Linked DNA regions of Homo sapiens: all the other regions are linked to region 1. The links come from fine-mapping of genetic effects on gene expression. A gene starts in region 1. Each other region holds a variant in brackets. All regions are shown on one strand. Distances are from middle to middle. Region 1 holds the start of TBL1XR1 (TBL1X/Y related 1). Region 2 overlaps TBL1XR1 (TBL1X/Y related 1). Region 3 has its middle 37 kb from the start of TBL1XR1-AS1. Region 4 overlaps TBL1XR1 (TBL1X/Y related 1).

Region 1 (7,885 bases):
AGAATCACTTGAACCCAGGAGGCGGAGGTTGCAGTGAGCCGAGATCGCGCCACTGCACTCCAGCCTGGGCAACAGAGCGAAACTCCGTCTCAAAAAAATAAAATAAAATAAAATTTTAAAAAATAAATAAAACGTATGAGGAGCTACTACCCCAACATCACAGCTAGTAAAGGATAGAGCCTGAGTTTGAACTCACTTTAACCACTATGCTACAACACAAAGACTTCAATGATTTTTCTTACACAAATTTTTTGTTTGTTTGTTTTTGAGAGGGTGTCTCCCTCTATCGCCCAGGCTGGAGTGCAATGGCGCGATCTTGGCTCACTGCAACCTCCACCTCCTGGGTTCAAGCGATTCTCCCACCTCAGCCTCCCGAGTAGCTGGGACTACAGGTACCCGCCACCACGCCCAGCTAATTTGTGTATTTTTAGTAGAGACGGGGATTCACCATGCTGGCCAAGATGGTCTCAATCTCTTGACCTCGTGATCCGCCCGCCTTGGCCTTCCAAAGTGCTTGGATTACAGGCGTGAGCCACTGCACCCAGCAAGACTGCATCTTATTAAATGGTGCTAGGGAATTCAGCACAATGATATGAGTTCTATCAATTTCATTTACCCATGTAATCACTCGACCCATTTAGTACAGACGCTCAACTATAGATCATAAACTTGATTAGAAACACAAGTTTTTGGAAGGATGATCTACACGGATCAAGACTAACAAAACAGCTGGGAAAATTCCGCAGATTCAGTCATCTAAGACAGACCCAGGTTTGAATCCTAGTGTTCATTTAATAATTTTGTGGCCTTGAACAAGGGAATTAACTTCTTTGCATCTCTGTTTCATCATCCACAAAAAAAGCCCAACACTATCTACCTCATAGGATTAGCCTAGGGTATAAACAGCATAGAAAGCACCTCACACCTCCTAGAGCATAGCCCGGAGCACCTAGTCCCTCTCCTCTGGCTCTATGGTTACAGGGCAATTAATTGCACTCTTACCGAATCCAATCCCAGAGGGGTAAACAGCCAAATCTCTCCAGCATCAGCGCTCTCAGAGTCTTTTCTTTTTAACTTCAAGTTTCTATTGGTGGCAGAGCAGGAGATACCACCTTCGTGGTACCTAAACTGAACGATACTCAACAATTCTTTACTACACAGCTCTAGGGTCCTAGCCCTCCTCTACTACCAGAATGTCTGAGCATAAAGTATAAATGTCTCGTGTTAGCTGCTTTCCTTTTTTGCATTTCAGTGACTTATACTGTAAATGTTATTTGTGAAATGAGTCCAATTCACATGCACTAGAAAAATACAAGTTCTAGTGAATACCAATGTTTCTGCCATGCCTCTCCCCTGACTTCCTACCATTCACATTCTTCTTTATTCTTTTTATATAAATGACACCAAAAATTGAACAAACCCAACAAATTATTTCAACCAACTTCATCAAAATGTGTCAAGTCAGGAATTCTTTATAATAGTACTGCTACAAGTTGTACTAGGGAGATTCCTTTGTCAGCTACTCGTCTGACAAGGTTGTATATATACTGCACTGATAGATTTAATCAACAAGTTGATGTTCAAAAGGTCTATTAATACATTTCCTTTTATCAGTACCCCTTATATTTATATTACCTTCTGTTAGCTTGAAAGGCTCCTAGAACACAGGAAGCAGTTACCTCTAATTCTTTCGGGAGACTGGTGTCATGGTAATCATGCAAAACCTTTAATTAGGTGTCGAGAATACAAATATCAAAAAGATTCTTAGACATACGTATTAAAATGCTTAACACTTCTTTGAAGCAACCAATGCAAAAATATCATCTCTGCAAGGGGTCACTCCATTTACCACCAGTGTCTCCCACATTAATACCCAAAGCTGGTATACGTTAAAAGAAAAATGTCATAAACTGACGGTGAGCTTTGCAACAATTTTTATGCCATTAACATGTCACTTTATTAAGTTCCTTAGCAATAAGAAAAACTTTTCCCAGGCACGTAGTTTTCGTCCCCCATACAGTTTAGTATTTTGTCCTGTAGGTCGGATTCCAACAACTCAAACGTCAAAAAAAATAGTAGTTATTTATGAATTTAATGATTGCGATTACATACATCTCAGTGCAGGATAGGGTTGAAAAAAAAAATCATATTCCAAACAAGAAAACCTGGATTTAAGAGCAAGAAGCCTAATCACACATCACACGCCTAACTGCTCTCAGGCATACTTTCTTCCTGCAGCCCCTCCCCCACAGGTAAATGCTAACTATTTCTAGAACTCTCAACTATTTGGGAAGCTTGCCATCAACTCCCATGATACCACCCAACCCACACCATGTTTTCGGGGAGACAAAGGTGCCCTACTTCCCCAGACTATAAACTATTAAAATGGTGAGAACATACAATCCCAGGAAGTCGGCATTACTAAAATACATCAATGTAGCATGGGTCTTATTTTAACAAAAATGAAAATGAATCACACTGGAAAACCCAAACAGTCACTCATTGTATCTTCAACGTGTAATCGAAATTATTTATTCCAAGTTATTTCAGGTAAGTAGATGAACACACCACGAGGGCCTTATTATCCAAACTGGTGAAGAAGCCTTTAGGAAAAACGGAGGGGGAAGATCACTTAATTATATGAGGTGGGGGGTAGAGCAACCATTCAGTCTTAAAATTCAAACTAAAAATAACCTGGCATTTTCACCCCCCACATTTTATTAACAAGCTTGTTTAGATCAGCATACGGTTCCTGTTTGGAAAACAAGAAAGTGAATAGTAAACTTTCCTAAGTCAACTGTAAATCACATAGGTACTAAAACTCTTCACCCCTGGTGCCTGCACAGTCCAAGATTTCAAGTAAACTCCAGACACTGAGAACACCTAATTTTTAACTAGTTTCCAACATTTCTCATTTGTAATCACCAAATTATCTTAGAGACACTTAGATAACCTAACAAAGAGAGCATTTTTTAAAAGCCACAACCCAAATTTTACATGAAATACACCATTTTCACAACCTAAATTTAATCCCGGTTGCCACTGCGAAGTGATGCCTGTTTCAGCAAATTAAGAACTTCCAAAAATACTGAACACGTTAACACATGCATGGCTTCCCTCGAGCTGCCATTTAAGATTAATATTCCACTTAAATAAAAGTCTGCTTCTGTTCAAAAAATTAAATCGGTTGCAAAGAGGAAGTTACCGAGAAACCACCCTCACAACGTGGCCTTTACACTGTCAGAAAATAACGTGACTCTGTGCCACCCAAAACTTACCAGGAAGCTGGCAATAACTTTGCCAATTCTACACTCCTGAACCCAACTTCAAAGAGCCTCCACCAAATACCTCCTTAAGACGATAAAAAGCACTAAGTTACAAATAAACACGTCCCGGAGCAAGGCCCGGCTGCCGCGCGCCCCTCCCCCGGCCGGCGCCCCCGCCCCGGACGCGCGGCCCCAACAGCCGCCCGCAGCCCCCAGCACGCCGGCCGGGGTCGCCGCGCCCGGGCCGGGGACGCGCCCGGGGAGGGGAGATTTCCATTGCCGCCCGAGGTTTCACAAAATAGCATGCACCGAAAAGCTCCTTCTCCTCTGCTAAAAATAGGCTATAAAGGAGTCGGCCTCATGATGGCTCCTTGATTCAATTTGCTGCAAATCCTTTCCTGAAAGCCTCCCCCCCCAAACACACACGCACAAAAAGGGGGTGTAAATGCACGAAGGGAGGAAGAGGGGGAGAAGGCCGAGGTGCACATTTTCGGGGACAACATAATTAGGGTGAGGATCCCCCGAGACCGGGAAAGGGTAGGGGGGTGGGCAGGCACGTGAGCATTTCAAAGAAACCTGAGAGAGGAAAACGGGGGGATGGGGGCGCCCCAAGTGCCCTCCCTGCCTTCCCTTCCCCCACGCAAGCCCAGTTCCCCCAAGGGCCAAGTTGAAAAATGCATGTTCCACTCGCGCCCATCCCCCCGCGGCCCAGCGCCCCCGGCCGCCTCTGGCCCGCGCCCCCCGCCCAGGCCCCCGGCCGCCCCCACTCCAGGGTCCGGCCCCCAGCGCTTACCTGGAAACGGTGGCCTCCAACGCCGCTCCCCCCTCCCGGGAATGGAGGCACAAGGAAATTCCCCTCCTCGCCGCCGCCGCCACCGCCTCCAACCACCCCCAAAATAACCCCTCCGGGGGGTGAGAGGCAATTATAACCCCAGCGAGCGGAGGGCGCGGGGGATGGGCGCCGGGCGGGCGGGGGCGGGGAGCGCGGCGCGGGTCCCCAGGTGGCGAGCGGAGGTGCTCCCGCCGCGGGGGGAGGGGCGGGGGCGCACGCGGCCGGCGGCGGGGGGAGGCGGCGCGCGGGGGAAGGGCGCGAGCGGGGAGAGGAATTGAGGCAGAAGGTAAAAGCTGTTACTAAGGGAAAGAGCCAAACGGTTCGGAGCAGCCAACGGCTCAGACACTCAACACTGGGGAGAGAGGAATGGGGACCAGCCAGGCACAAATGAGCTCGCGAGGCCCGCGGCGGCGGCGGCGGCGGCGGCCGCGCAGCAAAACAAACCCGAGCGGCCTGCGCCGGGCGGGCGGGCGAGCGGGCGGGCGGGCGCGCGGGGGAGGGGCCGGCGGGGGAGGGGCGCCGCGGACGCCGGGAGGCGGCGGCGGCGCGGCGGGGGGGCTCCAGCGGCCGCGCTCCTCTCCTTCCCGGCCCGCTCTGGCGGCACTGGGGGCTGGGCTGTGCGGCGCATTCTTTTAAAAATCAGGCGAGCCCCGCGGGCACTCGAAGGCGCCTCGGGGCCCCGGGCCGCCCGCCCCGCCCCCACCGCCGCGGGCCGGCCTGGGTGTGCTCGGGTGTGGGCCGCTGGGCCCGAGACGGGTGGGGGCGGGGAGGCCCGCGCGGTGGCCGGGGTGGAGCCGCCGGCGAAGTTTCCCCAAGGACGCCGCGGGCTCCCGCGTGTCCGGGGGGCGGCCCGGCGGCGTTGGGGGCTGGGCGCACACGCGGCGGGCATGTGGGGGAGTGCGGCGCGGCATCATATGGACATTTGTTTGTGAAAATCTCTGTGAACACCTTTGTGTGCGTAAATACATATGGTTCTCCGAAGCGTACCTGGAAAGGTGCTTTATCTGTAATAAGCGACTTTCAAAATGTGATCCAGAGCACGGGATCTGGAGAGAAAACACGCACACAAGAAAAGGTTTTTGATACTAAACACAAAGCTGTAATTGAAGTATTTATGCCCAAATGTACTGTGAATCAAGCATATGGTGGTATTTATCATCTGGTGGGTCTGTTTGAAAGGTTTGCTCGATCAGTTCTTATTTCACAAAAATAAAATAATGTAACTAAATGTTTACTAAATATATACCTGCACAGTGGCATCCACAGTAGAAGTTTATCCACTTTGTGTACTTTTTGCATGTGTGAAGCACAGCAAGGCGGTTTATAAAGTATAACTTAGATGAGTGATAATGTGGCAGTATGGTTGAGGGAGGGTTGTTTTTAAAGAAGGGAGGCACCTCACAGGTTTTAAAGCAAATGGGGTGGTAATCTTTCTAAGACTTTCAGAAAGATGGGGTAGGGTGCTTTTTAGAGCTTTGTATAAGCTCAGGACTGGAGAAGCAGCCACCCTTTTACATTAAGATACGACTTGAAACCTTTTTGTTATTTCGCTTATTACTGCCTTCAAAGCAAAATAATGTTTGCAGCTTTCTTAAAGGTGAAGGGTTCTGTTTTCCTACTTTCATCAGAATATTTGAAAATAGATGTAGTGATCACTTTAAAGCAACCATCATTTCCTCTCAATATCAGAAACCTGAAGTTTTGCGACACACACACACACACACACACACACACACACACACACACACTACTCGTAACTTGCACCAGTCTGGACTCCTGGTGGCCTAATAAGTTCAGTAATTAGACAGGTGCTTTCTTGGCCAAGGTCAATGTCTCTTTCCCCCCTGAGCCCTTGCTTGGGGGAGCTGCCAGAGGCCTTTCCTGAATGACCTAGTGGGGCAGGGAGCAGGAAAACCATCAGAGGAAAGGGAGTGGGATTGGAAACTCCCTTCCAACCACCAGAGAGTTCAAAGCATATTAGTGGTGTGTCCTTAGAGCTATTTTCATGTATGAAAGTGGGAATGTTGGATTAAACAATGTCACCCGATGGGAATTTAGATAACTGCAGGTTTCCAAAACACTATGCAGAGTGTACAGGGAAACCGCACAAAGCAAGTTTTGCATTTCAATAGGATTCTAAAGCTGAGGCTTGTTTACCTCAGAACTAACACCTTTCAGAAGACTTTATTTCAGAATTGAAAAGAGTATATAGTATCTTCCTTTTTTTTTTTTTGAGTTGATAAATGACGTAGATATCACTAAACATACCCTGTCTTCAGTAAGTAAACTATCTCGGTGGAGCCACTCAATGAAACATATCTATTGGCTTAGATTATTTTTTAAGTTTCATATTGTGCCACCACGGGCGGGTCCTCTCCATACAGCAGTGACTGTAAAATCAAACCCCACTTTCAGTGAGTGAGGACTTCTCAACCATACCATTCTTAAAGCGTCATATTCAAAGCTGCCCACCCCACCCCTTCTCCTTCCCCTAAATGACTTCTATCCCTTATTCCACAAGGGAGGAGACACCCTCCTTCAGGTTCATAGGATCAGGTCTTCCAGCCTGAAGTTCTTATACCCTACACCAAGCTGCCTCCTAAAGTTGTTCAGTGTTAGTTGAGCCTCCTCACAATGATAATAATCCATGCATTTGTTTATATCCCTGTAGTTTACAAGACATTTCTGTGCGTAAATGACTGCATTTAAATATGAAGATCATCGAGGCTGGGGACTTACAAATCCGTTGCAGTAAAATGTACTTTACTCACCACTGTTGGATCATACTAATTGAAGAGAGAGGAGAGAGCAGGAGTACATTTTTTTTTTTTAGGTGGAGTTTCGCTCTTGTCGCCCAGGCTAGAGTGCAATGGCGGAATGTCGGCTCACTGCAACCTCTGCCTCCCAGGTTCAAGCGATTCTCCTGTCTCAGCCTCCCGAGTAGTTGGGATTACAGGCATGCACCACCACGCCTGGCTAATTTTGTATTTTTAGTAGAGATGGGGTTTCTCCATGTTGGTCAGGCTCGTCTCAAACTCCCGACCTCAAGTCATCTGCCTGCCTCAGCCTCCCAAAGTGTTGGGATTACAGGCGTGAGCCACTGTGCCCGGCAGCCTGGAGTGTTTTTAAACAAACAAACAAAAATAGGGGCACCCAAATGTGGAAAGGCCTTGATTCTTCCAGCAAAGGGGGTTTTAAATCAGATCATATTTTGATCCCTTTGATTTTTATATTCTGGAAACTATCTGAAACAACAGTGTGGCTTCAATGTTAAATACTCAGAGAAATAAACCATCACTCAAAGGTCATATGTATTGTCGCCTCGCCCTCTAGCTGTCCCAACATATCCAGCATAAAGGATCAGGGCTGCACCAAAATACAAGCAATGATTAGACTCACTGGGTGAGGAAAGGACAAAGAAGGAACTATTGTTACTAATATTCAGTACTTTGTCCTAATCTAACACTCCCATTACACTTTGAATTAAATGTTAATGTGTTTCTAGAAAGGAGATATTACTGTATTACTAAGAAATTGTAAAGCAAAGGAACACATTAAGTTCTCCGCTGGGTGTGGTGGTTCACGCCTGTAATCCTAGCATTTTGGGAGGCTGAGGTGGGCAGATCACTTGAGGTCGGGAGTTCAAGACCAGCCTGGCCAACATGGTGAAACCTCGTCTGTACTAAAAATACAAAATATTAGTCGGGCGTGGTGGCGGGTGCCTGTAATCGCAGCTACTTGGGAGGCTGAGGCAGGAGAATCGCTTGAACCCTGGAGGCGGAGGTTG
Region 2 (7,885 bases), 160 kb before region 1:
TAGGTATATGAAACCGGCATTATGAAAACAGAAAGGGGACAATGAATGGTGCTAAGACAACTGACTACCCAAATGGAAATATCTATACCTCACACCATATATAAAAATCAGTTCCAAAGGGGCTAAAAAAATAAATGTAAAGGAATAAAACTTAGATACTTCATGAAAAAATATCAGACCTCAGTGATATCTATAAGGAAAAATGTATTAAGCTATGAAAAAAAAAAAAAGCTATCAAAAAGGAAAGATCTAGCCGGGCACAGTGGCATGTGCCTGTAGACCCAGCTACACAGAATGCTGAGGTCAAAGGATCTCTTGAGCTGAGGAGTCCAGCCTGGGTAACACAGCAAGACCCTATCTCTAAAAATAATCAACTAATTTTAAAAAGAAAGATAAATACATCTAAACATTAACATTAAAAACTTTCATATGATCTGGGCGTGATGCCTCATGCCTGTAATCCCAGGAATACTTTGGAAGGCTGAGGCAAGTGGATCCCTTGAGCCTAGGGGGTTGAGGCCAGACTGGGCAACATGGCAAAACCCGGTCTCTACAGAAAAATACAAAAATTAGTGGGGTGTGGTGGCATGCAGCTGTGATCCCAGCTACTTGGAAGGCTGAGGTGGGAGGATTAGCTAAGCCCAGGAAGGCCAAGGCTGCAGTAAGCCTTGATCTGCCACTGCATTCCAGCCTAGGCGACATAGTGAGACTCTATCTCAAGACAAAACAAAACAACAACCAAAAAACCCCACAAAACTTCTACGTGATAAACACTCCACATGAAGAAAATAAAAAAGAAGGTACTGGGAGATCACTGGAATCCATATAACCAGGAAGGATTAGTACCCAGAATGCATAATGAACACTAATCAGTACAGAATATAAAACAATTGAAAAATTGTGGTGGTGGTGGTGAACTAAAATGCTAAAGTCCAACTGTATAATAACTATTTGAAAAGATATTTAAACTAATTGACAATCAAGAAAATGCAAATACAAAATGTTTCATATCCATGTAATTGGAAAAATGTTCACCAGTCTGATAACCTAAAGATAAAGGAAAATGGGAAATCCTAAATATTGTGATTAGAAATGTAAATGGGTGTATGCACGTTGAAGAGCAGTTAGGCACAAGCACGTAAATATACCGTATGGGCCATGACTTCCACTTACAGGATATGCTATGCACAGGTGTGTGTGTGTATGTGTGTGTGTGTGTATATATATATAGAGAGAGAGAGAGAGAGACAGACACACACAGAGAAGCGTTAGAGAAACTTTCATTCATGTGCACAAGAAAACGTGGATGGATGTTCCAGCAATGTTGTACATTTTTAAATCCCCCAATAGGAAAATAAATTTGAAAATTAATATATTCATATTATGAATATATTATTAATGAATATATTAATATATTCATATAATGCTCTGGAATAGTCTAAATAAATAATCATTCTAGAGGTACAAGTATTAATGTGATATTTCAAAGAAGTGGTAAAAAACACTAGCTTGAAAAGACATACAATAGAAGATTCACAACAGCATGATTAATTACAATTTTACCACAGAAAATAGTAGTATATATCATTTATCATGGGAATGACAGGCACTCTCTTCAGGATTGCTATAGCCTCTAGGAAGGAAGAGGAAAATGGAGGTGAACACTTTATCTGTATCTATAACATTTTATCAGGTAAAAATAGGAAGGAAGAGATTCACAACAGTGTGGCAACATGTTCTTATCAATTAAATCTGAGCAGTAGATATATGAGTGTTATATTATTTTCTGTTTGAAATGTATAATTATTAAAAGTGAAAATGAACAAATACTAACTTGAATATACATGGAAATGATATTATTTAGATTTAGATTCACTTTCATCAACTCTGTAACTGTTGTTCAGTTTTAAAAAGTTTAGTTGGGTGAGGCCGGGCATGGTGGCTCACACCTGTAATCCCAGCACTTTGGGAGGCCAAGGCGGGTGGATGACCTGAGGTCAGGAGTCTGGGACCAGCCTGGCCAACATGGTGAAACTCCATCTCTACTAAAAATACCAAAACTAGCCGGGTGTGGTGGCAGGCACCTATAATCCCAGCTACTCATGGGGCTGAGGCAGGAGAATCGCTTGAACCCAGGAGGTGGAGGTTGCAGTTAGCCGAGATCGTGCCATCGCACTCCAGCCTGGGGCACAAGAGCGAGACTTCATCTCAAAAAATAAAAATAAAAATGAAAAATAAAGTTTAGCTGGGTGTATGATTAGTGTCTTCCCACAAACACAAAGTTAAACTAAAATTTAGGAAAGAGTTTTTAAGGCATATATATCATAGTTACAGAATATATCCAACATAGGCATATATTCATAAAGACAGCAAATATGGGAGTAGAGGTAAGGAAGTAATAATAAAAATTAAAGCAGAACATTTTTACTTAATTTTTATTTTTTTTTTTTGAGACAGGGTCTCACTCTGTTGCCCGGGCTGGAGTGCCGTGGTGTGATCTTGGCTCACTACAACCTCCACTTCTGGGTTCAAGCAATTCTCCTGCCTCAGCCTCCCGAGTAGCTGAGACTACAGACATGTCACCACACCTGGCTAATTTTTGTATTTTTAGGAGAGATGGGGTTTCACCATGTTGACCAGCTGGTCTTGAACTCCTGACCTCAAGAGAACTGCCCGCCTTGGCCTCCCAAAGTGCTGGGATTACAGGCATGAGCCACCATGTGCAGCCTAAAATTTTATTAGAAGGCTCATGGTGGCTCATGCCTGTAATCCCAGCACTTTGGGAGGCTGAGGTGGGAGGATCCCTTGGGCCCAGGAGTTCAAGGCCAGCCCAGGCAACATAGAAAGATCCCGTTTCTATTTAAAGAAAAACAAAAATAAATATTAAAAAATTTTATTAAAATGTAATGTAAGATTCAGGCTTAATAATCATTTGTTCAACTAGCAAAAATCTGCAACCACATTACAAAGGGTTTAGTTTTTTAGTCTATAAAGAGCTGCTAGAAATCAAAGACAATGAATAACCCAGTTGAAAATAATGGAAAAAACATGATCAAACAGTTCACAGAAAAATTAACAAGTGTGCTTAAATATATAAAAAAAGATTCCTAATGTCATTCATAAGAAAATGCAAATTTAAAACTATGCTGAAATACCATTTATCACTAATGGATTGAACTGTGCGGTAAAATATTACTTTATATTGTCAGCAGTAGTGTAAAATGGAAGAAGCACAATGCTTTTATTCATAAAGAAGCTAGGAAGAAATAAAAACTAATAAAAATTGTTACCAGCAGGAGAGGAACAAAGTTTCTCAGTGTATACCTTTATACAAGGTTTGAGGTTTTTTCTGAACTGTATGCATGTATGAAGTAATTTAAAAATCTTCAAAGTAAGTGATGAAAATTAATTTGTGAAATGAACCATGGTGGCGGACACCTACACAAAGAGAAATACACCATAACAACTTATTATGTGTGCACTACAACCAACAAAGATCCGATAACTGAGAGGGGTGAGTTCAGTGACTGCTATTAAAAAAGTATAGTACATAGAGCAAAAAACTAAAACATTGAGAAGATTTAAAAAATTGAAAGCAACAGACTGTTTTCTCCACTTCTAAGAATCTCTGAAACACCATACATACTACCTGAAAAGGTAATGTAGTTGTAAGTTTCTTTCTCATAAATTATTGCATTCAGCCATAAAATCTGGTCCTTTGACTTTTACTGCTCA[C/T]ATATAGCTCCTTCGGAGACAACTATTTTGAAAAATAAAATCTGTCATTTATCTAAATAAATACATCTTAAACATTCACATCTGATATCTGCAAAACCGTTGGAAAAAAACAAAAGAATACAATAATAAATAATAAAACAAATGATCAAAATCCATTTCAAAATTCCAGTCTCCATAAAGATATAACTTCCATTAGTTTCTATCTTATTTTAAAACCAATAATTCAATTAATGCCACAAGAGGAATGACAACCAAATGGTGAGGCAGAGTGTATAGGCAAATGCTTCTACCTAAATTTAAGAGCACTTGACCATTTAAATAATGAAGACATACCTGCGTGTTCCAGATGTGTACACATTTGTCAAAAGAACCACTTGCCAGATACCTGCCATCAGGACTGAAAGCTACACTGTACACAGGCTCTTGGTGTTTTGTCAAGGTATGGATGCATATCCCTCGGTCTACATCCCATAACCTAACAGTAGAATCAAAGGATGCACTGAAAAAGGAAGGAAAGAAAGTTAATTTATAAGTAAGGAAATACTCCCCCAGCCTTGCTCCCACCCAACCTCCCATATTCAGCCAAATCTAATAGCCAAAATTCTTTATGAGAAGCAGACCGACTGGACTGTTAGGAAGAATATTCTGTGATCTTCAAGTCAGTGACAAGAAAATAATAAATAAATGAAATTTAGAAAGAAGAGCAAGTGTTCTAGAAATTAAAAGCTAAACAAGCGAAAAAAACAACTTAAAGGAATCTCCCAAGTCCAGGAGTAGAAAACGTAAATGTGCTCATTTACTGTATTCCTCTCTGTCTAAATAATCCCTCTTTCGCATGGTTTTGAACACCAAAGTGACCACATTTTTCCATTTATCTTTTTTTTTTCTAAAGATACTGAAGATTTTGCTATGCCTCAATTGCTTGGATTTTAATCAGTATTTGGTATCAGTCAATATTTGATTATTTCAATATAGAATATCATTATAACTTGAAACAATAATAAAACTCAGTGTTTAAAGATTCCCCTTAAGGAACCGACGTAAGTGCCCATCAGCTAACAAGTGGATAAAGAAAATGTGGTATACATACACCATGGAATACTACTTAGCCATAAAAAGAAATAAAATATTGTCCTTTGCAGTGACTTGGATAGAGCTGGAGGCCATCATGCTAAGTGAAATAACTCGGGAATGGAAAACCAAATATCATGTTCTGACTTGTAAGTGGGAGCTAAGCTATGAGGACACAAAGGTATAAGAATGATATAATGAACTTTGTGGACTGGAGGTGGGAGTGGGGAGAAGGCTGAGAAGAGAGGTGAGGAATAAAAGACTACACACTGGGTACACTACACTGCTTGCAAAACCAGTGCACAGAAATCAGCACTAAAGAATTTATTCTTGTAGCCAAAAACCACCTATACACCAAAAACTACTGAAATTGGAAAAAAAAAAAAAAAAGTTTCCACTTCATGAAATCTTCCCTAAACTTCTGTCATATCTATTGGAAGTCTGATTTGTAGAAGACTCATAAAAGGAAAAATGAAACAGAAGTATCACCTTGCTAACATAAGGTTGGCATTTGGATTATTAGTCCCTGGTCCTGTTGGACTCCATTTGATAGTATAAATTTCTTTATTATGTGCTTGCAAATCATGGACACAATTGTCTTGTTTCATACTCCATATCTAAACAAAAAAGAAAAATGTATACAATTATTTTTCCATACAATGAGTATATTTAAAATATTATTTTGACACTTAAAATATTATATGGACAGTCTAAAACATGAGTGATATAACCAGAATGATGATAGAATATTTACAAAGAAACTGAAATGCAATAGGATATATTTAATATTTACATCTCTGTTTAAAAAAAAAAGTTAGCTTTAAGCCCTTTAAAAATATTCACTATTACAAAGTTTGAAGACTGAATTAACTATAGTTGTTCTGAGATTAGTTAACGATCCTAAAATGTTGAAGGCACAGTTTTTACACTGTCCCTTAAGCAAAAGATCTACATAATAAACTGCTCTTAGAATTTTAGAATCAGGAAAATTTTACAATGGAGAACTGAAAATAAATAACCAACTTATAAATAATGAGGACTCACAGAGAACCGTAAAAAGTAGCATAGGAAATAAAGCTCAAATGAAAAGTAGGAAAAAAAAAAAGTAGAAAAAAGTAGTCAAAGTAGAGAATAAGCCTTTCCTGAGATGAAAATATGCCTGTGTGTATAGATTTCAAGTGACTATTATTTTTGAGCAAAAATTCATAGAAATCAACACGAAGAGTATTTCTGGGAAAAAAAAAATCACTCAATAAAGACATGGTAGGTCCTGCAGTTATCTCCTTAACACATACACATACAACATGCCAAACCCAAGGAGGGCCAACCAAGAAAAAAATCAGCTCAACTTTACATTTCCGTGACATAACCATTAAAAGATAATGAAGCATCAGAGTGTTTTTGGTGCCCTATGTATTTACAACCCCAAGTAAAATAAATCTGAACGACATGTTTTCAGAACTGATTTCATTAGACCTTTCTAATTCATAGAATTTGATACTGTTGGCCACTCTCAACTCTTACCTCCCTTGAAATAAGTTTCCTCTACATACTTTCTTTTTCCACTTTCTCAGTCACCTTCTCAGTTTCCTTTGGAAAGCTCATCCCTCTTGATTTGGTGATTGTTAGAGTTTCTAAGACTCACTTTTTTAGGTCCCCTCTTTTCTTACTCTGTACTACCTACACAGTTTTGTCCCTGCCCCAATTTTTTTTTTTTTTTTTTGGAGATGAAGTCTCACTCTCTTGCCCAGGCTGGAGTGCAGCACCACAATCTTGGCTCACTGCAACTCCGTCCCCCGGGTTCACGCAATTCTCCTGCCTCAGCCTCCAGAGTAGCTGGGATTATAGGCACCTGCCGCCACGCTCGGCTAAATTTGGTATATTTAGCAGAGATGGGGTTTCACCATGTTGACCAGCCTGGTCTTGAACTCCTGACCTCAAGTGAACTGCCCACGTCGGCCTCCCAAAGTGCTTTAATTATAGGCATGAGCTGTGGCAACATGGGGGCACTAGCTGTGGGTGTCTGCCTGCAGACCCTGACCCAGCAATGGATGAATAAAGTACACTAACACACAGATATCCTGTTTCGCCAGTCCAGCTGAGGGTGTCCGAGCCATTTACAGACTCCCTGGAGAGTTCTGTAAACAGTTGCGACCATGGCCCTATCCGCTAGTGAGACTCAAATTTATTCAGTAAGATTAATTCACAAAGGCTTGAGTCAACACCATTAGAGGGTAACTGACATTGTGGACTTCCCAAGTAAAAAGCACTTAAGCACCCATGGCACATCAAAGGTTAGTCTTAATATTATATGAGTAAACAAGCTAGCTAGGTAAACTACCCTGCCTTCCTTTATTACTAGTTTAATTTGTTTAACTAAAGGTAAAGGAACCAGGCCGCGTTCAGCCAGATCTATTACTGAAGTTACTTCTCAGTTTTCCAAGAAGATATGTGTCTATTTCTATAACTATCTCTAATATTTTTCCCACCAGCCTGATTGAACCCCAACAGTGAACCACCAGGCCTGGCCATGCCCAAGGATTTTAAAGACCACCTATCTGCTGAGAATTCCCAGTTTTTAATCTTGAGCTTACAGTTCTCTAAGCATCAGTCCCACCTATCTCCTCCATTCGCATGACTCAGCGTCACCTTCTCATTCCATCTGGCATTCCCTCTTCTCAGAAAACGGCCCATTACACATTATCCATCCATCCTAGTTTTTGCTTTAAAATCCTTTGTGACATTTAAACATTCTTAGGATGAAGAAAAGCTCTCTAACAATTTCTAGTTTTAACCTCTCTCCAGCTTCAACTCAATATGTGGCACAAGGCCCTCTGGACACTGCCCTTCTGTCATTTCCTCATATGTGTCACACACAGTTCCAGAAGAAGTTTTTTTCATGTTATAAGCATTAATACGTGTGCACATAAGGAAAAGCCAAAGATGAAAGCATTAAGAAGAGTATTAATACTAGCAATTTTGTAAGGGAGCCCAGACTTAAGAAGAACTGTCTAAAAACATAGCAGATACTTAAAGGAGAAAACCTCACAAGTTTCGCAAAGTTAAATTTAATCTGTTC
Region 3 (7,885 bases), 200 kb before region 1:
CTCCATGGCTGTTTTTGCCAGATAATCGTTTATTGGTGCAACCAGTTAGCACATCTTTCCTGAATTTATGGCCTTTTTAGGACTGCAGAGTCTCTGCTACTTCTAAGCTGTTCGTGAGACGTGAAATCTTTTGCTTAGCTGTAAAGTCCCATCTGACTAGACACAACTTACTGTCATTCCTCACAGTGGTGTCGCCTGGAAGCAGGAAACAGTCTTCTCTGATCTTGGAACCCACAACCTCTTTTAGTCTCTCTCTTCCCAAGTATTCCCCAGCCGTTGCCAGCAGACCTAATGTCTGAAGAAAATCTTCCTACCTTCATGTTACTTTGTCACATTCTTACCATGTCAAAAAAATCCACCAAGTCCTCCTAAGGACTTGAGTTTTTGAGTAGCAAAACTCAGAAAGACTTAGAGAATATTTCTGCTTTCTGCTCTGCCATATGCCTTTCCTAAGACAATGAAAACATTGCTAGCCAGAATGTAGTGAAGAAGTGGGTATAGCTTATTATCGCTTAATATTATCCAGCAATAACAATAGTTGCTTAATAGTTGTAGCAAGAGTGACTTCTAACCCTGGATTCTTCACTATGTCATCTTCTTTATTATTATTATTTGAGATGGAGTTTTGCTCCTGTTGTCCAGGCTGGAGTGCAGTGGCGTGATCTTGGCTCACTGCAACCTCCACCTCCCAGGTTCAGGCAATTCTCCTGCCTCAGTCTCCCAAATAACTGAGATTACAGACACGCACCACCATGCCCGGCTAATTTTGTATTTTTAGTAGAGTTGGGGTTTCACCATGTAGGCCAGGCTGGTTTCAAACTCCTGACCTCAGGCAATCCACCTGCCTCATCCTCTCAAAGTGCTGGGATTACAGGCGTGAGCCACCGCACCCTCCCAATATTTCATCTTCTTTAGCTATTGTAAAAAGAGATACAGTGAGGGTGTGGTAGGCAGAATTATGACCCCTCTACCTAAATATGTCCACATCCTAATCCTTGGAACCTGTGATTATGGTATGTGCAGACCTGCCCCAAAGCCCAAGGAAGCTGACAGGCTGAAGAAAGTGGCTGACAAATCTAGTTTCTTAGAAAGAAACATTTAATAGGGACTTATGAATAGAAGCGATATTTGTGTCTCAGGCAGTGGTGAGATAAGATGGTGGATCCCCATACCATTATCCCCCAGACTTATATAACATAAGGAAAGAGTGAGTTAGAAGGAATATGTAGGACAATGGAAATTAACTAACATCAAGGTTGTTTGATCTAAGGGCCTCATTTACATTAAGTATCTGCCCTTACACAAGGTACAGATACACTGGAAACCTTAGAGGCCTTCCTGGAAGTGGAGTTAATCAGAAGCCAACATGGATAATTAGCATCCCAGATGGAGTTGCTTTAGACTCCACAGTATACTACATGGCAAAGGGAAATACTAAGGTTGTTTGTCAACTGACCTTGAAATAGGCAGATTATCTTGGATTATCCAGGTAGGCCTAAGGTAAATAAAGGATCCTTTAAAAGTTAAGACAGAGGTAGTAGACAGAGGGAGAACCAGAAAGATGGCAGTGTGAGAAGGACTCAACTCAACTTTGGTAACTACGAACATAGAGACAGGAATGTGGGCAGCCTCTGGAAGTGGAAACAGCAAGGAAATGGACTCTCCCCTAGGGACTGGAGAAAGAAATACAGCTCTGCTGATTTTTCAGTCCAGCCTTGGATTTTCAGCTACAGAATATAATAAAAGGCCAAGCTTAAATTATATTTCGTCAATTAGTTGGCTTTGACATATTTAGCAAGAGTAAATAAGTCTGGTCTTGATTTTAGCCCAGTGTGAGCCATTTGGGTTTCTGAACTATAGAACAGTATGTATTTGGGTTATTTTAAGCCAATAAATTTGTGGTAATTTGTTACAGCAGTCATAGAAAATGAATACATGGGATATTGGGGAAACACTGCAAAATTTGTAGTGAGAACACCTGAGTTTCAGTCTCAGCATTTTCATGTATGAAATCTCCACTGCGGCTGCACCACTGCCTGAGAGAGTAGATTGTAAAAAAAAATGGACTGGCTCTGTCTTCTTCCAAGATTCCATTCTCCCACTGGTACCTCCACTTTTAGCAGAACTTACCAGGAATACAGATAACAAGAGAGTCTGAGAAACAGAAATTGCAAGCTCCCTGGCACAGCAGAGAGAGGAGGGTAGAGAGAGCAATGATGAAGATGAGAGAGCAGACAGAATCTGCAAGTATTAAGTTCAACAAATATTTAATGGTCCCTTCTCTGTAACAAATATTTTCCAAGTCTACTTTGTATTTATTCTCTTATGAATCTTGTAAGCATTATAATCCTAATTATTTTCAGATGAGGAAAATGAGAGAGGGCAAAAGATTTTGCCACAGCTACTAAGTGGCAGAGAAGTGGCAGTGGGCCAGGGCTTCTGGATCAATCCAACTTAAATATTCTTTCTCATACACCAATGGTTTTTTTATCATGAGTTAGTAATTTTGAAATGAGTCTGAGGATATAGAGGCAAAAAGGACTTACTTGTTGCATAGGATCTATGAATCCTAACTATGTATGTGCTGAACAAAAGGCCTTCATGAGGTAAAAAATGATAGAACTGAAAGGGGAAATAGACAAATCCAGACTTTTACTCAAACACGCCAACACTCCTCTCAGATTAATCAATAGCATAAGTAGATGGAAAATCAGCTAGGATGTCAGCCACTTGACCTAACTGACAGAACATTCCAAAGACAGGAGAATACACATTCTTACAAGTACATGTGGAATATTCACCAAGATACACTGCATTCTGGGTAATAAAACAAACCTCAGTAAAGTCAAAAGAACTGAATCCATACTAAGTATGTTCTCTAAACCCAACAAAATTAAGTGAAAGATCAAAAACTGAACTATCTGGAAAACAATCAAATATTTGGAAGTCAAACAATGCATTATGGCTGGGCATGGTGGCTCACGCCTGTAATCCTAGCAATTTAGGAGGCCAAGGGAGAGGATCTCTTAAGCCCAGGTGTTTAAGACCAGTCTGGGCAACATAGGGAGACCCTGCCTCTATTTTTTTTTAATTAAACAAAATTTTAAAAATAAAACTTTAAAAACGTTTTAAATTTTTCCATAGTTTATTGGGGTACAGGATGTGTTTGGTTACATGAGTAAGTTCTTTAGTGGTGATTTGTGAGATTTTGGTGCACCCATCACCTGAGCAGTATACACTGCACCCTATTTGTAGTCTTTTATCCCTCACCCCCATCCCACCCTTCCCCCCAAGACCCCAAAGTCCATTGTATCATTCTTATGCCTTTGCGTCCTCATAGCTTAGCTCCTATATATCAGTGAGAACATACGATGTTTGGTTTTCCATTCCTGAGTTACTTCACTGAGAATAATAGTCTCCAATCTCATCCAGGTTGCTGCAAATGCTATTAATTCATTCCTTTTTCATGGCTGAGTAGTATTCCATCATATATATATCATAATTGTTTTATCTGCTTGTTGATTGATGGGCATTTGGGTTGGTTCCATGATTTTGCATTTGGGAATTGTGCTGCTATAAAAATGTGTGTGCAAATGTCCTTTTCATATAATGACTTCTTTTCCTCTGGGTAGATACCCTGATTTGAGATTACTGGATCAAATGGTAGTTCTACTTTTAGTTCTTCAAGGGATCTCCACAGTGTTTTCCATAGTGGCTGTACCAGTTTACATTCCCACCAGCAGTGTAAGTGTTCCCTGATCACCACATCCACACCAACATCTACTGTTTTTTGATTTTTTTTATTATGGCCATTCTTGGAGGAGTAAGGTGGTATCACATTGTGGTTTTGATTTGCATTTCCCTGATCATTAGTGATGTTGAGCATTTTTTAATATGTTTGTTGGCCATTTGTATATCTTCTTTTGAGAATTGTCTATTCATGTCCTTAGCCCACTTTTCGATGGGATTGTTTTTTTCTTACTGATTTGTTTGAGTTCGCTGTAGATTCTGGATATTAGTCCCATGTCAGATGTATAAATTGAGAAGATTTTTCTCCCACTCTGTGGGTTGTCTGTTTACTAACTGTTCCTTTTGCCCTGCAAAAGCTCTTTAGTTTAATTAAGTCCCAGCTATTTATCTTTGTTTTTATTGCATTTGCTTTTGGGTCTTTGCTCATGAAATCCTTGCCTAAGCCA[A/G]TGTCTAGAAGGGTTTTTCCAATGTTATCTTCTAGAATTTTTACAGTTTCAGGTCTTAGATTTAAGTCCTTAATCCATCTTGAGTTGTTTTTTGTATAAAGTGAGAGATGAGGATCCAGTTTCATTCTCCCACATGTGGCTAGCCAATTATCCCAGCACCATTTGTTGAAAAGGGTGTCCTTTCCCCACTTTACATTTTTGTTGGCTTTGTAAAGATCAGTTGGCTGTTAAGTATTTGGGTTTTATTTCTGGGTTCTCTATTCTGTTTCAATGGTCTATATGCCTATTTTTATACCAGTACCATTCTGTCTCTTTTTTTTAATTAAACAAAATTTTAAAAATTAAAAAAAAATAAAAATGTAAAAAAACCCCACATTACAAAAAGAGCCATTGGGCAAAAAGTTACGAAGAAAATTATAAAATATGTTTAAACTGAATGGAAATAAAAACACACCTTATCAATAGCTGTGTGATATAGCTAAAGCAGTCTTTGGAAGGAAATGTAGGCTGGGCATGATGGCTCACATCTGTAATCCCAGCACCTTGGGGGGCCGAGGCGGGCAGATCACCTGAGGTCAAGAGTTCAAGACCAGCCTGGCCAACATGGCATAACCCCATCTCTACTAAAAATACAAAAATTAGCCAGGTGTAGCAGCGCATGCCTGTAGTCCCAGCTACCCAGCAGGCTGAGGCATGAGAATTGCTTGAATACTCGGGAGGCTGAGACACAAGAATAGCTTGAACCCAGGAAGCGGAGGCTGCAGTGAGCTGAGATCACACCACTGCAATCCAGCCTGGGCAACAGAGGGAGATTCTGTCTCAAAAAAAAAGAAAAGAAAGAAAGAAAGGAAAGAAATGTATAGCATTAAAACAAACAAACAAACAAAAAGCCTCCAATCAAAGATTGAAGCTTGCACCTTAAGACACTAGAAAAAAATGCAAATGTAACCTAAAGCAAGCAGAAGAAATGAAATAATCAAGAGCAGAAACTTAATCAAACTGAAAATAGAAAACAATAGAGAAAATAACTCAAAACCTTTAAAAAATGCAATAAAATGGACAAATAAACCTCTAGCAGTCTGAAAAAATTTTTAAAGAGATGACACGAATTACCAATATTGGAAGGACACCATACCAATTTTGTATTGAAAAAGTAGCTATTAGACCCTAAAAACATTAAAAAGATAATATTGTTAATATTACAAATAACCTTAGCTCATAAATTCAAAAACTTGGGCAAATTGACAAATTCCTTCAAAGGCACAAACTACGAAAGAAGAATAGAAAACATGAATAATCTAAATTTTCTAAAGAAACAGATTCATGATTAAAAACATTCCAACAGAACAAAATCTAGGCTGAGATGGCTTCATTGGTGATTTCTCCCAAGTGGTTAAGGAAGAACTAATACCAATTACAGTACACACAAACCTCCAGAAGTTAAAATAGGACGGATCACTACCCAAGTCAGTTTATGAAGCCAGCCTTATCCTGATACCAAAGACATTACAAAGTAAATAAATAAAACTTCACATCATTCTTCATCAACCTGGAACAAAACATTAGCAAATTAACCCAGAAACATATAAAAATGACAGTACATAATGGGCAAGTGGGGTTTATCCCAGGAATATAAGCTTGGTTCCACTTTCAAAAATTAGTCAATATACTTCACTACATCAGCAGACTAAAGAAGAAAAACCATATGATCATCTCGATGCATGTAAGAAAAGCATTTATAATTCAACATTTATCTGTAATAAAATATTCAACAAACTAGAAACAATAGTTCCTCAACTTCACAAAAAGCATCTAGAGAAAACTTACAGGTAACATCATACGTTATGGTGAAAGAATGAATGCTCATCCTCCAGGATCAGAAAAAAATTTAAAGATGTCAGATCTGACTGTTCCCATTCAATATCATACTAGAAGTCCTATTCAGTACAATATGACAAAAAAAAGTATTTTAAATGGCATGCAGATTATAGAAAGAAATAAGACTATGTCTATCAACAGATGACATTATTATCTGTATAGAAACTTCCAGAGAAACCCCAAAAGAGCTATCAGAACAAATAAGTACATTTAGCAAGGCTGCAGAATAGAAGGTCAATATACAAAAATAAATTGGATTTCTATGTACCAGCAGTGAAAAACTAGAAACTGTAATTTTAGAACAACAGTATTGTCTATACAAAAAAATATAAAATATTTAAGTATAAATCTGACAAAGTAAGTGCAAAGGCAATTCAGTGGAGAAAGAATAGTCTTTTCAACAAATGGTGCTGGAAGAATTGGATATCCATGTGCAAAGAAATGAACTTTGAGCCATATCTTGCAACATATGCAAAAATTAACTCAAAATGAATCCCAGACCTAATAGTAAAACTGAAATCCATAAGTCACATAAGAGAAAACTTTTGTGAACTTTGGTTAGGCAAAATATTTTAGATATGACACCAAATGCTGATTGCTTTAAAAATGATAAATTGGACTTCACCAAAATTAAGCATGTCTGCTTTTTGAAAGACACCATTAAGGCTGGGCATGGTAACTCACACCTGTAACCCCAGCACCTTGGGAGGCCACAGCAGGAGGATTGCTTGAGGTCAGGAGTTCAAGATCAGCCTGGGCAATATAGCGAGACCTCAATTCTACAAAACATTACAAAATTAGCCAGGTGTAGTATCATGCACCTGTAGTCCCAGCTACTCAGGAGGTTGAGGCAGGAGGATAACTTGTGTGCAAGTGTTGCCTTCCAAGTTGCAGTGAGCTATGACCACCCTGCTGCACACCAGACTGGGTAACAGAGCAAGACCTTGTCTCTAAATAAAATAATTTTTTAAAACACCGTTAAAAAAAAAATCAGGCTGGGTGCAGTGACTCACACCTGTAATCCCAGCATTTTGGGAGGCTGAGGTGGGTGGATCACTTGAGGTCAGGGGTTTGAGACTAGCCTAGCCAATATGGTGAAACCCAATTTCTACCAAAAACACAAAAATTAGCCGGGCGTGGTGGCACCTGCCTATAGTCCCAGCTTCTTGGGAGGCTGAGGCAGAAAAATCACTTGAACCCAGGAGGTAGAGGTTGCAGTGAGCCGAGATCACACCACTGCACTTCAGCCTGAGCAACAGAGTGAGACTACATCTCAAAAAAAAAAAAAGTATCTGATAAAGGACTTGTATCCAGAATATATAAAGAACTATCAAAGCTCAATAAAAAGAAAAAAGAAAAAAATTCCAATTTAAAAATGTGCAAAAGTTCTGGACAGACACTGAACCATAGAAGATATATGGCTGGGAAGTAAATACATGAAAACTTAGTCAACTTTATTAATCATTAGGGAAATGCAAATTAAAACCACATTGAGATACCACTACACACCTATTAGAATGGACTAAAAAAACCTGACAATTACAAATGTTATTAAGGATGTGGAGCAACAGACTCTCATTAAATTTTGATGAGAATTAAAAAAAAGGTACAGCTACTTTGCCAGTTTGGCTGTTTCCTATAAAGTTAAACTTATATATACTATACAACCTCCCTCTCAATCCCATTCCTATGCATTTACCCAAGTAAACTGAAAACTTTTGGTTGCACAAAAACCTATGCATAAATGTTTATAGCCACTTTATCCATAACTGCCAAATACTGGAAATTACCAAAATGTTCAACAAGTAAAT
Region 4 (7,885 bases), 110 kb before region 1:
ACCATACTGGGTAAGTCTAAATACAGACATGAAACGGTGGGGGAGGGGAGCCAATAGAAAAGAAGGGCCAAGGTGTCTCAATATGGGTAGTCTGTCTTACATACATACATACACAAGCTGTATGTTCAGGGGGTAATGAAAGTGTCTGCTCTGTTACATGACATGGGGTTGGAGCAACGGAAGTCTCTTTTCTGAAATAAATTTTCATCTCTCTACTATAATTAGAGCCCACAATTTTTTTTTAAGAAAAATAATGGTTTTCTCACCAATGAAACAGATATTAACAACTTTACATGGTTATAACAATATTTAAGTAAGATAACTACTCTCTATCACGGAACATATACAGTTGACCCTTGTACAAAGCAGGAGTTAGGGTTTTATCAACCCACCCAATCAAAAATCCACATATAACTTCCGACTTCCCAAAAACCTAACTACTAACAACCTAGTTATGACCAGAAGTCTTACTAGTAACATAAACACACACACCTTACATGTTGTAGCTATTAGATGTTGTATTCTTACAATAAAAGAAGCTAGAGAAAAGGTTATTTAAAAAATCATATGGAAAATATATTTACCATTCATTAAATGGAAGTGAATCATCCTGAAGGTCCTCATCCTCTTCACAAGGCTGAGGAGAAGTTGGTTTTGCTGTCTGAGGGGTGGGAGAGGTAGAAGAGGTGGAAGGACAGACAGGCAGAAAGGCAGGCATACTAGATGCAACTGTACTTTTAAAAAAACCAAGTAGAAGTGAACCCACATAGTCCACACCTGTGTTGTTCAAGGGTCAACTATACTAACCCTTCCATTTTGGGGTTGATTTTTACTTACTTTTTTATTTAAAAAAAAAATTAAACTAATCAAAATGGTTTTTGGCATTTTTCTCTTACATGTTTAAAGTACCTCTATGTAATCTGTTCTATAATCATAAGCCCTTAGGCTCTAAGTCACTTTTTTAAAAAATATCAGGTTGTAATAAACTCAAAATGATCCCAATAAACATCTGACAGGAAATGAAGGCCTAACATATAGAGGGTTGTGAATTAAGAACTTTAGCATTCCAACCTTTTTGTTTTAAAAACTCTCCTTACAGGTGCTAGTAAATCATAGAAAAAGAGAGAAAATAGGCATGGTGAAGGATTTCTGTTTCTATGAACCAGGAATAAATCAAAAGATATAACTAAAATTAACTGGCTTAAGAAAAAGGACAGAAGTTGAAGAAGCAAACAAACAGAACCTGTATGAAACTAGAAGTTCCTGTCCTTTACACACTAACTTTAGCATGTTAATTTCTGTCTCAAGCAAAATTTTTTTTTTTTAAATCATGCAATCTTATCCACTGGACGGATGGATGAATGAAAGGAAAAAAGAATGGGGGGCGGGGAGTCTTCAAATGGCTTCAATACACCATTGAAGTAAGAAATGGCCTTCAGTTTCCAATTTTATGGCTATATGGGACCATGCTGTCCAACCCCAAATAGTCAAAATCTAGTAAGACCAAATTTAATATAGTACACCCAAAGAAAATTAGGAAAACTTAAAAATAAGCCAGATAATATTCAGTGATAGGACACCTTTTGTTTTAACATTACCGTGTTAAACATCTATCCCTCTATTGTGGGTATATGTCCTTGCTCTCACACTACTCTGTGTTTCTCGAGGTAAGACAGCTAGTATTTTATTCCTGAATAGTGCCTACACTGAGAATTTATAGAAAGGACAGCAAAATTATTTGAAACATGAAAAATGTTTTAAAATGAAAATAGTAATTCACCATAACAAGTTCTATCACAGTTAATATAAATTGAGCACCCCAATCTAAAAATTCAAAATCCAGAATGTTCCAAAATCTGCAGTTTTTGGAGCAGTGACATAACGCCATGAGCAGAAGATTCCACACTTGATCTCATATGACAAGTCACAGTCAAAACTCTGGTTCATGCACAAAATTATTTAAAATACTGTATAAAACTGCCCTCAGGCTATATATATATAAGGAGTATATGAAACATAAATGAACTTCGTGTTTAGACTTGGATCCTATCCCCAAGATATCTCATTATAGATATGCAAATATTCCGAAATCCAAGTAAATATGAAATCTGAAATACTCTGGTCCTAAGTATTTTGGATAACCAATGCTCAACCTGTGTAAAGATTAAATCCATGTAAGAAGCCAAGCTTTCTCTGCCTTTCACGTGATACTACAGTCTTTCACAGCTTCCATTTTAGGCTCAGTTATTTCAGCCTCTAATGACAAAGATACAAGGAATCAGTTAAATATAACTCCAATTTGTGTGTGCTCTGCTTTTCTTCATTTGTTTAAAAAAAAAAAAAAGAAAAGAAAAGCCTAGAGACTAAGAGGTGTTCAATGTAACCCTCTTACTGTTGATTTGGGAATCAGCTCTCCAGAGGCATACATTCTCAACCAAATGAAAATGGTTCACACAATATCATGCGACAATGTCCTTCTTTCTTCACATTTAATAATACCAGTTCCTAATCATGATGGTAAAAGATTAAAAATGAAAGTAACAATGAACTTTCCTACAGTAAATAGAACAAATTAATTTATGGATGCTACATTTATAAGTAGGTAATAATCATTGACTCCTCGCTATGTACCACACTCTTTCTCGGCAGCGACCTGTTGGCAGGGTCACAACTCCTTGGGGTCTTGTCTTCAGTCTGGCAAGTCATAACTTCTTTCAGTTTTTTAAGAATAATCAAGTTCTGAGAGAAGATATGTTAACAAAATACAGCAGGGTGGTTTATGAGTAAAAGAGGTGATTTACTAATTACACTGAGAAATGTACCTGTCAGTAGACCAGAATATTCATCAATGCAGAAGAGGCCAGCAGGGCCCAGCCCACATTCCCTCATCACTCAACTTTCCCAAGCAGCTGGGTAGCTTTTTACTGCAAAGCACCCTGAGGCCAAACAGCAGGTCAGGAGCTGCTGCCCTGCCCTCCGCAAAGCCTAACTGCCTAACTCCCAGACTAAGGAATGGGGGTTAGTGGACAAATTACCCGAGGTTCCTTGCCCCTTAGGTGGAAAAAGAGACATGTTCTACACTGTTCCCGAGGATGCCACATGATTTGAGTCCAACTGAACAAAAAAATTAGTCTTTCAGGCAGTCGGTATCAGCCTCCTTTTCCCTTTCTGGCTTCTCCACAGGAACTTTCTAGATCCACCTCTCCAATAAAGGGTTATAATCAAGGGTCTGGTTCCTCAAGAATCAAACCTAAGAGAACTGCTCAGCATCATTCTATTCTTTGTGGAAGAGTCCTGTTGTTAAACCAAATTAATTTTTAGAAGTTGTGGGATGACTATACAAACAGAACAAGAGGAAATAGAAGGGCTCAGGGGATTGATCGACACAGTTGGTAGACTTTTCTGGAAAATAAGAATCTATCTGTGGAACAGTTCAAAGAAAAAGATATGCAAACAGTTCTAAAATAAACTAGCAAACAGTTATAAAATAAATGAAAAGATGCAAATTAGAACCATAGTGAAATACTATTTCTCACCTATCAGATTAAAAGACATATATGTATCAAAAAAGACATCATATATACTGTCTGCTAATGGGGAAAGAGGGAACCTCGTATATTGCTGAAAGGAACATAAGATGGCATAATGCTTTACAGAAGGAAATCTGGCAAATTGACATGCACATTTCATGCTCCTATCTAAAAACTTCCACTCTTGAAACAGCTATCTGTGTAATGGAGTAGAATGCAGCTGTAAAACAATGAATAAAGACTATCTCTATGTCCTGCTATGAAGTGATCTCCAGAATATTTAAGAATACCCATGGATTTGTTTACATTTGAGCAAGATAAACCAAAAATAGTTTGATTTTTAAAACTTGGTTACTTACAAAAGGAGGAAGTAAGAATGTATCTCACTTTGAAGTGATATAAATGTTTCCTATGATTATAAAACAAAATAAAAACAAATATTTTTAAATTCTAAATACTAAAAATAAAATGAAACAAATTGGCCTGGACCCAGCATAGTGGCTCAGGCCTGTAATCCCAGCACTTTGGCAGGCTGAGGCCAGGAGGAGTGCTTGAGCCCAGGAGTTCAAGACCAGCCTGGTCAACACAGGGAGACACTGTCTCTACTAAAAAAAAAAAAAAAAAAAAATCAGCTGGGTGCAGTGGCTCACATCCGTAATCAAGACACTTTGGGAGGCTGAGGCAGGTGGATCACGAGGTCAGGAGACAGAGACCATCCTGGACAACATGGTCTCT[C/A]TTAAAAATGCAAAAATTAGCTGGGCATGGTGGCACGCACCTGTAGTTCCAGTTGCCCAGGAGGCCAAGGCAAGAGAATCACTTGAAGAATTGAGGCGGAGGTTGCAGTGAGCCAAGATCACGCCACTGCACTCCAGCTGGGCGACAGAGCGAGACTCCGTCTCGAAATAAAATAAAATAGAAGTTAAAACAATTAGCCAGGCATGGTGGCATGCACCTGTGGTCCCAGCTACTTTGGGAGGCTGAGGTGGGAGAATCGATTGAGCCCAGAAGGTCGGGGCTGCAGTGAATCATGATCAGGCCACTGCAATCCTACCTGGGTGACTGAGTGACACCCTGCTGAAAAGAAGAAAAGAAAGAAAAAGAAAAGAGGGAGAGGGGAAGGGAAGAAGAAAAGGGAAATGGGAGCAGGAATTGGGGAGATAGGGGAGGGGAGGGACAAGCTGACCCAACTATATATCAAATTGGAGGTGGGCAGGGGGGCAGATTACACATGAGGACTTACTTTAAAACGTAATACTTAGCTGTAATCCCACTGAGACGTGGACAAAAAGAGAAAAATGAAAACAACAGTCACTACTCATACTGGTTAAATATACATTTATAAATATAAAAATACGTATAATTTTATATTATGTTTATTTTCTACATTTACATGTACTTAAAGTACTTATAAAGTACATGTACTTTATATGTCATTTATACTCTACTTTTGTTTAATACATTATTTTCTATTATGTTTACATATTAACTATTGCATATTATATAACATAAATATATAAATATTCTTTTTCACTAAAAGGAATCAGGACTTTAGAGACATAGCTGATCTGAGGACCAATGAAGGACATGTACAAGATGAGCTTTGGCCAACATGTTGTTTTGTCAGAAAGCAAGGAAGCTACCAGAGAGACAATACTAGAGTCATGTCAGAAAAGACTCAGAAGTCAACTTGAAAAGGCTCTTTTGGCCAAGGGAATGACATCAATAAGAATACAAACTACAGTCAATAAAACATATCAAATGCCTAAATCCACACGCTCACAATAACTCAAAAAAATCCTCACTTGTTACCTAGAAAGGTATTCAAGAATACTAGAAAGGCTTCCAGGAAACAACTCAGTACTTTGAAAACTGGTAAATAAAAGAAAGAATCATGCATTTCATATGCCTTTCCTGTGCAATCTGTGCCACAAAGTAACGAAATATCTGTTGGGGAAAGTTTCTCTTTATAGAAATGTTACACATAATAAAAGCTTGATATAATTGAATATGAACATTCTCATTGCCCTCATGGAAATAATGGTTCTAGGAATGATCATCAATGTCGCCTACTGTCAGGAATAAAAAACAAACATTGGGTGCTTCCTTATGCAAGCATACAGTAAGTGTCCTTTATCTAAAACGATTGGGACTACAAGTGTTTCAGATTTTGAAATATCTGCAGTATAACGGTTTAGCGCTCCCATTGTGAAAATGTGAAATCCAAAATGCTCCAATGAGTATTTCCTTTGAGTGTCGTGTTAGTGCTCAAAAAATTTCAGATGTTGGAGCATTTCAGATTAGAGGTATTCCATCTATACTTAGCACCACCTGTGAAATATTCTGCCACCCCAACCTCCCAAAATAATAAAGGAAAAAACCTAAATTAAGATTAGATTAATCTTAATTCATTAGATGAAGCCTTTAGCTATAACCACCAATTTACAGAAAATATAAGGAAAAGATGAACATTATACTACAGGAATCCAATTAATAAAATACAGAATGTAGAAAACTTCACAGGACAAATAAAAGGGAAAAAATAGGTAGAAGCATAACTATACACAGTAACCAAACATAATGTATAAGTTTTGTTGATTCTGTAAAAACATATTAGGAGCAGTTCAGAAAAATTGAAGCTAAGTAGATAGTTGGTAGTGTAAAGAAATTATTGTCAGCACCTCACATCCATTAAGATGGGCACTAGCAAACAAACAGCAAATGTTGTCCAGTGTGTAGAACCCTGTTGCACTATTGGTAGAAATGTAAAATAGTGCTGCTGCTCTGGAAAGAGTACAGAAGTTTTTCAAGGAAAAAAAAAAACCTAGAATTACCATATGATCCAGCAATCCCTCTTCTGAGATCCCAAAAAGAATTCCAGTTCTAAAAAGAGTTGAAATCAAGATGTCAAAGAGATTTGCACATCCATGTTCAAAGCAGGACTATTCATAACAGCCAAGAGGTGGAAGCAACCCAAATGTCTACCAACAGATGAATGGATAAAGAATATGTGGTATGACTTCTATTCAACATAGTACTTACTGGAAGTCCTAGCCAGAGCAATCAGACAAGAAAAGACATCAAGGGCATCCAAATCGGTAAAGAGGAAGGCAAACTGTTGCTGTTTGCTGATAATATAATTGTATACCTAGAAAACCCTAAAAACTCCTCCAAAAAGTTCCTAGAAGTGATAAATGAATTCAGCGAAGTTTCCAGATACAAAATTAATTTACACAAATCTAACTCTTCTATACATCAACAGCAACCAAGTGGAGAATCAAACCAAGAACTCAAACCCTTTTACAGCTATTGTAGTAGCTGCAAAAATAAAATAAAATACTTAGGAATATACCTAACCAAGGAGATGAAAGACCTCTACAAGGAAAACTACAAAACACTGCTGAAAGAAATCATAGATGACACAAACAAATGGAAACACATCCTGTGTTCATGGATGGGTAGAATCAATATTGTGAAAATGACCACACTGCCAAAAGCAATCTACAAATTCAGTGCAATTCCCATCAAAATACTACATCATTCTTCACAGAAGTACAAAAAACAGTCCTAAATTTCTATGGTATCAAAGAAGAGCCCACATAGCCAAAGCAAGACTAAGCCAAAAGAACCAATCTGGAGTCATCACATTACCTGATCTCAAACTATACTATAAGGCCATAGTCACCAAAACAGCATGATACTGGTATAAAAATAGGCACATAGGCCAATGGAACAGAACAGAGAACCCAGAAATAAAGCCAAATATTTACAGCCAACTGATCTTCGACAAAGCTAACAAAAACATAAAGTGGGGATAGAACACCCTATTCAACAAATGGTGCTGGGAGAATTGGCAAGCCATATGTAGAAGAAGGAAACTGTATCCTCATCTCTCACCTTATACAAAAATCAACTCAAGATGGATCAAAGAGTTGAATCTAACACCTGAAACCATAAGAATTCCAGAAGATAACATTGGGAAAACCCTTCTAGACACTAGCTTGGGCAACGACTTCATGACCAAGAACCCCAAAGCAAATGCAACAAAAACAAAGATAAATTAAGATGGGACTTAATTATTAACTAAAAAGCTTCTTCATAGCAAAAGGAACAATCAGCAGAGTAAACAGACAACCCACAGAGTGAGAGAAAATCTCCACTATCTATACATCCAACAAAGGACTAATATTCACAATCTACAAGGAACTCAAACAAAGCAGCAAGAAAAAAACAAATAATCCTATAAAAAAGTGGGCTAAGGACATGAATAGACAATTCTCAAAAGATATACAAATGACCAACAAACATGAAAAAAATACTCAGTATCACTAAAAATAAGAGAAATGCAAATCAAAACC

The links. PIP is the estimated chance that this variant, and not a neighbour inherited with it, causes the effect. A credible set is the group of variants that fine-mapping cannot tell apart.
Region 2: its variant is the best candidate, but not a certain one, in a credible set for the expression of TBL1XR1 in thyroid (GTEx, PIP 0.62).
Region 3: its variant is the best candidate, but not a certain one, in a credible set for the expression of TBL1XR1 in tibial nerve (GTEx, PIP 0.56).
Region 4: its variant is the best candidate, but not a certain one, in a credible set for the expression of TBL1XR1 in T cells (TOPMed, PIP 0.76).

Annotation. Positions count from the first base shown.
Region 1 is chr3:177,193,062-177,200,946 of GRCh38, forward strand. TBL1XR1 (TBL1X/Y related 1) reads right to left here and starts at 4,421. Exons shown (of 16, transcript NM_024665.7): 1 at 4,060-4,421. RefSeq lists enhancers at 639-1,229, 3,998-4,507, 4,508-5,015 and silencers at 3,463-3,512, 3,993-4,092, 4,203-4,392, 4,633-5,012.
Region 2 is chr3:177,028,903-177,036,787 of GRCh38, forward strand. TBL1XR1 (TBL1X/Y related 1) reads right to left here. Exons shown (of 16, transcript NM_024665.7): 13 at 5,296-5,423; 14 at 4,069-4,234. Among named protein-coding and RNA genes, the nearest start is that of TBL1XR1-AS1, 4.6 kb to the right of the region's middle. The variant C/T (reference allele first, on the strand shown) is at 3,736.
Region 3 is chr3:176,996,895-177,004,779 of GRCh38, forward strand. No RefSeq gene overlaps it. Among named protein-coding and RNA genes, the nearest start is that of TBL1XR1-AS1, 37 kb to the right of the region's middle. The variant A/G (reference allele first, on the strand shown) is at 4,197.
Region 4 is chr3:177,086,381-177,094,265 of GRCh38, forward strand. All of the region lies in intron 2 of TBL1XR1 (TBL1X/Y related 1), which reads right to left. Among named protein-coding and RNA genes, the nearest start is that of TBL1XR1-AS1, 53 kb to the left of the region's middle. The variant C/A (reference allele first, on the strand shown) is at 4,266.